Regions from separate parts of the Homo sapiens genome. Here region 1 is linked to region 2. Evidence: fine-mapped expression QTL. Tissue or cell type: whole blood. Region 2 holds a variant in brackets; the other region holds the start of a gene. All regions are shown on one strand. Distances are between the middles of the regions.

What was found. PIP is the estimated chance that this variant, and not a neighbour inherited with it, causes the effect.
Region 1: MCC starts here. The variant in region 2 is fine-mapped to the expression of MCC in whole blood (TOPMed, PIP above 0.99). The same link has a PIP of 0.9 or more in blood mononuclear cells.

Annotation. Positions count from the first base shown.
Region 1 is chr5:113,485,993-113,490,992 of GRCh38, forward strand. It overlaps MCC (MCC regulator of Wnt signaling pathway), which reads right to left and starts at 2,461. Exons shown (of 19, transcript NM_001085377.2): 1 at 2,253-2,461. The coding sequence starts at 2,422. RefSeq lists an enhancer at 2,360-2,654.
Region 2 is chr5:113,059,434-113,064,433 of GRCh38, forward strand. MCC (MCC regulator of Wnt signaling pathway) reads right to left here. Exons shown (of 19, transcript NM_001085377.2): 14 at 4,551-4,734. Among named protein-coding and RNA genes, the nearest start is that of DCP2, 85 kb to the left of the region's middle. The variant G/A (reference allele first, on the strand shown) is at 3,031.

The DNA.
Region 1 (5,000 bases), 430 kb after region 2:
CACAGAAAAGTGGCTTCAGAGAGGGAATCATTTAATGCCCCTTACCTTCATTAGCCCCATTCCCCAAGTCTTACCACATAAACGTAAATTCCAGGTAAAACTGTGCTTACCAGGTAAACACACTTCCAGACAAGTTCCTTGTTGCCCTAGATTGCCATCCCTAAACTTCTCCTACATGGCAATTCTGCCACAGCATAATTTTCAGGGCAGCTCCACCCACAGTTAAAGTTATGATTTAGGGTTCATTACTACACATACCTTGAAACTTTTAAGCAGACACATTAAAGTAATGCAGCTCAAGGAATGTTAACAACTTTTTCCACTTTTGCCCCAGCCAGTTTCTACTCTAATCCAAAACGGCTTCTTTATCACCACCCACTTTACTCAAATTACGCTTACAGAATTCATTATCCTCCCGGGTAGAATCACCGAAAATAATGTGAGCATTTATATAGAAAGTGTAGTTCAGATAAAGCAATATATTAATAGGCCAAATTAGAAAAGGATAGCACGCTGCTAGTTTTCTGTATGCACTCTTGCCCGTGTGAAATTAAACTTTTTTGCATCCATGCGGGGAGCGGTGGCTCAGGCCTGTAATCTCAGCGCTTCCTAAGGCCGAGGCGGGCGGATCACTTAGGGTCAGGAATTCGAGACCAGCCTGGCCAAATTGTGAAGCCCCTTCTCTACTAAAAATACGAAAATTAGCCGGGAGTGGTAGTGGGCACCTGTAATCCCAGCTACTCGGGAAGCTGAGGCAGGAGAATCTCTTGAACCAGGAGGCGGAGGTTGCAGTGAGCCAAGACCACGCCACTGTACTCCAGCCTGGGTGATAGAGCGAGATTCTGTCTAAAAAAAAAAAAAATTGTATCCAAAGTTGGAGTTTGCCTTTATTATTGCAAATGAGATAATAACCTTTCAAGTAGGAAAACAACAAAAAGGAAAACTATATAATGAAATTTCTTTTACTCCCAGAACCAAAATAACGAGACTTCCAGATAGAAATTTGCATGGAGTCAATCAGAATTACATATTATTTTCATTTCCGAACAGAATTACTCCATCAAGTTTTCTGATATCTTCCTAATGTTTCTCAGTAAAACTTTAGCAAAGTAATAAAAATTCACCTAAGAATGATCAAAATTGCGTTGAGTCCCAAATAAATAATTTTTTTTATTTTAAGGGAAAAATTCCGCACTTTGCTTTCTTTTTTTTTTTTTTAGGTAGGCAGGGACAATCAGGAAGCAGCCCCGGATTTTCAGAAACGATCTTTAGCATCACCAAGACATAGACTAAAGAAACATGTAATGCACAACTTAGGCTGCTCCTTCATCCAAGGCAATTCAAATTTCCACGGATACCAAGTCTTCAATGGCCGGTGTCAACCATTCAATAGAAGCATACCAGAAAATGTTGCGATTGCCTTCTTCACCACAAGAGTCTAAGTGACACAAATTTGGGCAGAAGTAATTATTTGGCCAAGCCGGGAGGCAGGAAGCTTAAATACCGCCTCTGTAGGAAGTGCGGGGGATCCGAAGCAAACACCCCAAAGTTTGTTTGTGAGTGGAGGCGCGGAGGCGCCCGGAGCCACGCCGAAGCTCACCTGGTCAGCGCACAGAGCCGGGTAGGAGTCGGGTCTAGCCCTAGTTTGCTCCTGAGCGCTTCGTTCCTCTCAGGCTACTGCGTTTAAATCAATACTGGGTGGCAAACGATACCCATTCTTTGGGCTCTGAAGTTTGGAATTCATGGGTTCTGCGGCACAAGAAAGTTTCTTCACAGGTTATTTCCCTGTCCGAGGCTGTCGCTTAGCTCATCTCCTCCCGGTGCGGCCCTGGGGTGTCCACCAAGCCGCCGGGCAGATCGCTGCCCCGTGCTGCGGCATCTTGATGCCCAGGACCCCGAGGCTGTGGGGCAGCCCCTCCTACCTGGGACAAGCGGCCAGAACTCCTTTTCCCACAGGGAAGAACACTCCAAGCCCCCGGAAGAGTGCGCATCCTAAGGAGATGTCTCCCAACGCCTAGACAAAGACAGCGCTGGGAAAAGTTGGACCAACTGGCACCCCCGCAAGGCGAACAGAGCAGTCCCCTCGGCCTTCGTGGCCGAGCCGGCTACGCGCTCTCGGAGTCGCGGCCAACTTTTCCCGCGAGCTTCTGAGCAACTTGCCGCAAGTTGGGGCGAGGGGGCAGAGCAGGGGTCAAGGGCGCGCGGAGGGACTGATCTCGCTCCTGTCGGTTTCCTCGTACCTCCCCGCGTACCTGCTGATGTATCCGTCCCCGTCGCCGTCGCACGTCTGGAAGAGGCGCCGCATCCTCTCCTCCTCGCCGGTGCTGGACGTGTCGCTGCTGCTGCTGCTGCTGCCGCTGCCGCCGCCGCCGCCGCCGCTGCTGGAGCTCCCCGCAGCCGCTGCCGCCGCGGCCGCCATCATGCGCCCGCTCCCTACTTGGGAGGAGGAGTACGCGCGACCGCAGCTGGAATCCGCGCGGCGCGCAAGCTGCCTGCAGCCCCGAACTTGCCTGACAACGGAGCATGCCCAGTGGCCGCCGGGGCGCTCCGGGCGAGGGATTCCACCTCTCCGGGTTTTGCCCGGACTGGGAAGATGGGCGCTCTGGAATCGCCCGAGGAGGCACCTCAGGGAAGAGGGAGGAGGGGAAGGTGGCTGGAAGAGTCAGGGAGCTAAGGGTGGCAACGGGAACACAAGAGGAGGCAGAATACACTGGAAGCCCCCGGGAAGGGTGTCAGCATTGTGCATCCGGCAACGACGCGGGCCCGGGACACTTGGGGACGCTTCAGGCAGAGGGCAGGTGTACTCCCGGCAGACCTTCTCCGACCGCCCGGAGTCATGGCTTCCTTTTCCAGAGAAGCTATATAAACACTCTCCTTCTGCAAACTCAAAACGGTGCTTGTAATCCCACTCTCCAGGATTGTTCCGGGTTCTGTACCCATAGCCACCAATGAGAACCGGAATGACTGGCCTTTTTATGAAATTTTGACACCTGTCAAGAAACCTGGCCCTCGCAGCCCTCATCTTGGCTCCCACTCTGTACTGGGAAGAGTCTGCACGCTGTGTGGCATTGTGTACGTTGGGTCAATTTCTGGAAACGGCTCACTCTACTGGCCAGGCATCACTAGAATTTCCCCCAACAGCTTTAATAATGCCAAGAGCGAACATAATAGATGGTCTCATTTGATCCACACTACAGACCTGGAAGATGCCTCTTTTATTATCAATCCTACGACTTAGGAAGTATTAATAGATAAGTACCTCATAGAGTTATCTTACATATAAAAGGAGAGCAGACATAATGCAGTTAGGACAATGTCTGACACCTAGTAAGTGCTCAACAACTGTTAGCTCTCATTGTTCCCAATTTACAGGTAAGAAAACTGAGGTACCAAGACCTGCTCAAGGTTCCAGGTTTAGTAAGTGTTAGGGCAGAGGCAAGCCCGGGCAGCCTAACTCCAGAGCAGGAGCCTTTAAACACTGCACTATTCCCCCATAGCCAAAGGGAAACCACAGTGAAGCAATTTGTGGTTTCGTGAATGACTCATTATTCTGTCCTGGATTTTCTGCCAGAGAGGCGTGTGAAGTTCTCTGGTGGTTTTAAAATATGTCCACAGATTCTTTGGTGCACCCCTCATCAAGAGGTGGAGTCTGTTGCTTCCCCTAAACCTGGATTGGACTTGTGACTGCCTTGACTTCTGAGACTAGGTTAGAAAAGGCAATGCAGATTGCACTTGGCTCTCTCCCTTGGGACACTTACCTTTGAAGCCTTGAGCTGCCTGAAAAGAAGTTTGGCTACCCTGAAGCTGGAGAAACCATGCAGAAAGACCATGTAAAGAAAAAAGGAGATGACCAAAGAGCTACAGCTGTTCTAGCCCTGGATCTTAGAATCTTCCCAGACTAGGTGCCAGACATGAGTGAGAGATGATGCTAGCTCTAGATGCTGCAACTGCATTGGAGACCCTGAGCAAAACTGGCTAACCAACCCCCAGAGCTGTGAAGATAATAATTAAAAATTGTTGTTTTAAGCCATTAAGTTTTGAGGTGATTTGTTATGCAGCAATATATAACTGGAACAAGTCCATATGTCTTGGGAATGTCTGCTAGGTCAGAAGGAAGGAATCTCTGCTCTCTTTCTCCTCCTCTCCACCCCATCTACCTATTCCTACTTTACTTCTTTATTATTCTCTAAGTTCCCAGTATTTCAGGGCACTAAAATCATAGATTCATGAGTTAATGAGTTAATGGGTTATCATGGGAGTGGGACTAGTGACTTTATAAGAAGAGAAGGAGAGACCTGAGTTAGCAGGCTCAGCCCCCTTGCCATGTGATGCCCTGCACTGTTTTGGGACTCTGCACAGAGTCCCCACCAGCAGGGTGGCCCATTGACCTTGGACTTTTCATTCTCCAGAACTGTAAGAAATAAATTCATTTCTTTATAAATCACCCTAGTTTCAGGTAGTCTGTTCTAAGCAACAGAAAATTGACAAGACCAGAAATTAGTACCGGGAGTGGGGTGTTAACGAAAACGAATACCTGAAAATGGAGAAGCAGCTTTGAAACTGGATAATGAGCAGAGGCTACAAGAATGAAGCAGCAGTCTAGAAAAAGCCTAGGTTCTAGTGAGGGCTGAGAAGACAGGAAGAACAGGGAAAGTTTGGAACTCCTTAGAAATTGGTTAAATGGTCATAATCAGAATGCTGATGGAACTATGGACAGTAAAGGCCATTCTGACAAGGTCTCAGATGGAACTGAGGAACAAGGTACAAGAAAATGGAGTAAAGACCATCCTTGTTATAAATTGGCAAAGAACTTAGCTGAACTGTTCTATGCCTGAGGGCTTTCTGGAAGGCTGAACTTGAGAGAGAGAAACTGGGGTATCTGGCCAAAGAAATATCTAAGCAGTAAAGCATTCAGGCTGCAGCATGGCTACTTTTAACCACTTACATCAAGCTGTGAGAGGGGGAAAAAAACTTTAAAGGTGGAATTTACAATCATAAGA
Region 2 (5,000 bases):
TCTCCCAAGGGCCTGCTGCTGGCTGCTGGGCAAGGGTTAAGTCATCCATTAATTCTCCCAGCTTGGAATGCTGGATGATCTCAGTTGTCAAGGGGGAATCAATCACTTTCTGTGGCTGCATTATTCCTCCTCTCCAGAACAGGAGCCTGTCTGTGTTCTCTGAGAGCGACTGTGGGGGAAGGCTAATGACAAAAACCCTCGCCACACATGTGTGTCTTGCTCTGGCTTCTTGAGGAGCTAGTCTAGGATGTGTGGGTTTCTCCTTTCCGTGATGCTCTGCTGGAGCTCCCGTCACGCTGGCTTTCCTCTGCATCTGTTCATTGCCAGCAGCTCTTCCAGCACAAAGCATACACAGCAGGCCTGTAGCCTGGTGGGAATGCGGGGCTGGCTGGTTCGGGACGGTTCGGGCCGACCCACTCTCCACCTACCCTGTCCACTATAGGAGAAGCTGTTCAAACCAGCTATCGACGTCAAATATCCTCTCTTCTATCCCTCTCCACCATGCCCCACCTCTGTCCTCAAGACAGTCCCCCAGCCTGCTCATTAGAAGAAAAATTCATTTTTCATAGCCTCCTCAGCTTGCCTTGGTGGAAGGCTAGAAGGACATTTCATTTCTTTTGCCTTGAAAATCCGTGATGACATTTTCCTGAAGTTTTCATCAACATCTTACCTGGCCCTAGCTGAGATCTCATTTCCATCAAGGAGCAGCTCTTTTTGTTTGTTTGTTTGTTTGTTTGTTTGAGACAGAGTCTCACTCTGTTGCCCACACTGGAGTGCAATAGCATGATTTGGCTCACCACAGCCTCCGCCTCCTGGGTTCAAGCAATTCTCCTGCCTCAGCCTCCTGAGTAGCTGGGACTACAGGCATGTACCACCATGCCTGGCTAAATTTTGTATTTTTAATAGCAACAGGATTTCACTATGTTGTCCAGGGTGGTCTCAAACTCCTGACCTCATGATCTGCCCGCCTCAGCCTCCCAAAGTGCTGGGATTACAGGTGTGAGTCACTGCGCCCGGCCTAGCAGCTCATTTTTAGAAGGAAAGTGCCCTGGGGGTGGGCATCTGTTTTGCTGAGCATTTGAAATTTATCTGAATGAGTGGGGTCAGTCCAATGTCCTTTCCAGTGAGAGTCCTAGAATGGAGAACTTTACCATCCTATGCATTTTGCAATGCTGGCATTTTAATTGCTTAGTTTTACAACAAACATACAGTTCTTTTGAAATCAAGAAGTTAGATCTCACTAGAAAAAAAACCATAAAAAGCATTCCATGTCTATACCTTGTTCTCATAGAACCTAAAAGGTAAGTGATGAGGACATTTGAGCAGGAGGACTGATCATAATGCTGTCATGTCAAGGATGTGTCGGGGCTGGTCTCTAGAGCTCACTAACACCAGTAAGCGTTTGTCTCAAGGACTTTGGATAGACTCTCCTGACACACAGATGGAAAAGCACCTCTCCTCAGTAAAGATGACTGTTTCAGCCAGATCTAGTCTGACTCTCATTCCCTGAAGCTTACTGATGCCTGTTCTAACTAGGTGGCTGTTTCAAAAAATTCACCCTTTCAATGGACATGATTTCACTCTCCTCAACCATTTTTTCTGCCCCAATGAAACTTTACCTTAATCCAGACTAGTTCAAAGAGTGAGAGCTAGGCATCTCTTGAGCTCTGCTGCTGTCCAGTCCAACTTGGGGATTACACCCCAGAGTGAGTGGCCACACAGGCAGCACCCTGGCTACCTGGAGGTACCTAGAGGCTCACGGCAAGGCTGCAACCACCATTCTCACAGCTCTCCAGGGTCCCCACCTGGTGCTGAGACAAGGGACTCAATTTCAGTCTCTGAGAGTACAGACTTGCTGTGGCCGATCCTGTCTTGGCCACAGTTCCTTTGTGGATTGAGATCGATGACTACGCTGCACAGAAGGAGCTGAACTGTGAGGCCTGCCACAGAGGGTGGGCTTGACCAAGGATTCCTATTTCCACTTCCTAACATTTTAGTCCTTGTGCCTCTTTGTCATGATATGTTGATAAAGCCATCCAGGCAATCAACCTAGTCACTCTGTCCATAAGACTATTATACTTTCTGATGAGGCCATGGCTATATTTTTCAAAAATGAAGTGGCACCGACCCTGGGCACCTGCCAACAGTCAACTGAGGGTTGGCTATCACTTTTATTCTCCTTGCTGGTTAACTACCCCTCTGCTGCTCCTCTCTAAAACCATTAACCCTCCTGTCGTTAGGAGCTGCCTATGGGCTGCCAGAAATGCCGCTGGAGGCACAATACTCAGCGTTTCTTTCCTGAACCCTTGAGGGGCAGTTGATGGACACTCTGATTAGACCTCTTGAAGCTGGGTGGTTACAGCGGGGGGAAAGGAGATTTGCTGGGCCACATAAAGCTCCAACTCAGAAAGATCCTTTTCTTTATTTTCATAAACTTGACAAGGGGGAATGTCTGAGCCAGAATGGCAAGATTTACAAACAAAATTACTATAATTATCATAATTATGAAAGGGGTCTGGTGCTTTGGGACTTTATTCTAAACCCACGTTTAACATAAAGCAGTCTAATTGCATCAGGTTCTAAGAATGTGGAGTGACAAATGAATGCCTCGTGTGTGGTTCTTCCATCCTCGGAGCTGCTCTGATTTGGGCGGGAGGGTAAAAGTGATTTTTTAAGGAGAATTGGGTGACATTGGAGCTAAAGACCTCTGTACTTTGATGGGAAGATCCATTTGAGACTGAAATTAATTTAAGAACCATTCTTTGGTGAGGTTATCCTTGGAAACAATGACTCTGTGTTTTGAATTTATCTCAATCTGCAGAAAAACAGGATCCCAAATTAAATTTCTCTAAGAAAACAGTCTCAAAATCAAGGCTAACCTGTAAGTTCAAGTACTTCTAACAAATATTCAAAAGCTAAATAGATGGTGATAAAATTGTTCTCCCTCCTGACTGGTTCTAAATTTGTCTCTGATTCAGAATAAAACCACAACATTCTTTTTGGGGGTAGGGAGGTTTGAGCAAATGATCC[G/A]TAGCACAAACCTCATAAGCTACTGAAACAGCACACATTTCCTGTCAAGCAAACTCTTATGTTCACTAATAAAACAACACAGCATCACTGACAACATGAGAACTACATTTCTATACTAAATAAACACACAAATTATAGATTATACACATCTGGAAGAGTCATTAAGAAGAGCATCTGCTTTCTGTGTTTACACAGTAGAATATGGTTTTATGAAAAAAATTATAATCTGTGCTTCACTGAATGAGACAATTGTTGCTGAAGTAAAGAAGAATCAAGTCCCTTTTGTTTGTGGGCACCTGGCTGAGTGCATTACTGGGCATGTTCCCTCTCCTGGGACACCTGGGCCAGTAGAGGTAAATGGAAGCGCTAAGGTAGATGGCGGGTCCCACCAGGGGAGAAAGAGAGAGGGGAACATTAAGTTGCTTTCCAGCACCAAGAAAGCATCAGTATTTCTCCTCTGGCTCTCAACAGTCAATCTATCTTTATGCAGTTCTGGTCACTTAGTCTGCAAGTAGACACTGTTTTGTTATGTCATGAGATCCAATGTGGGAAGAACAATATGCTCGATGCTAAGATCCCGGGTTCCCATCCAGGTTTCCCTCTTATCACCAGGCAGGTCACTGACATTATCTCTGAGCCAAGGTTTCCTAACCTGTGAAAATGGAGTAAGTTACCCTTCCAAGTCTTTCACGATTTGGCAATTAAGTAAGAATCTCTAACAAAGTGTCTTCTAAACTGAGGACTGGTAAATAAAGGGAAGGCATTCGTGTTTTTAGGGCTTTGGTGGCAAGAAATGAGAAGGTAAGTAGAAAGGGTTTTGTTCTGACTCTCCACTCCCATCCAAAGAATGAAATGACTTCAGCAAATTATGCTCTGCAAGGTCTTCGCCGCTCTCTTCCTAGCTTCCTTTTTCAAGCACCCACTTTAATTTCCTAGATTCACAGACAGTGAACTTGACCTCAGGTTCATGACTGAGTGCCTGTAAGCATGTGCTGTGAATGTGGCATCATTCCATGAGGCAAAAGAGATGAGAGGAGAGGCTCTTGCCTGAGAAGAGCTTATAGACGATGGAGGCACAAGAAGACAGGAGAGTGATGTCTGGAACTAGGATGAGCTGGGCTGGGCCTTGGGACCAGAGGGACCATTTGGAGCAAACGGCTCTTGGCTACCCTAAGTGCTTCCTGGAAATGAAGACTTATAAAGAAATGGAGAACAGAACAATGCAGAGAAAATGGATCTGACAGAAAGGTAGGTTTGCATTCCATCTCTACCACTTTCCACAGCAAATCTCTCCAATCTCGACTGCAGTTTCCACATTGGCAAAGTGAGAGGGCCACTTTCTAGCTCTTCTGTTCTGATCTTCTGACTCCTTTTTGGATGGAGCAGGCTGCATGCCAGAAGCCATGTCTGCCTTTTCCCAAGCCACACAGTCCCCAAGAGCTGGGTCACTGCACACCAAGTCCAGTGAACAGATGCCATGTGGACACACGCCCACCCCAGAGCAGAAGGCTGAGCATTACCTGGTGTGGCTGTTGGAGGAAAGGCTCTCCCAGGGCTGCACGCTGCAGCCGGCCACGGCAAAGGCTCCCCCACAGCTGCCGTCCAGCTTCATGAGCAGGGCCTTGGCAGCGTTCTCAGCTGTCTTCCGGCAGTCATGAGCTCGCTTGAGCATCTGAGTGATGTTTTCATCCCCCGACTGGTCTCCTATGTGGCAGAGAAGCCAACGGATTAATCAACATAGGCCTGGACAAGGCACGCCTGGGAGGGACTATGCATAATTAACTCTGTTACTTAGGGCAGAGGTGGCACTGTGGAAGGGAATTGGCAGTGCCCAGCCGAAGAGAAGATCTGTGTTCTGGGCCTGGCACTATCACTTAGACGCTACATGTGGGAAGGTATTTCTCTGCTCTTTCTCTGGGCTCCACTGGCCTCAGGGACAAGTGTAGGAGTTAACCAATGGGATCACCACA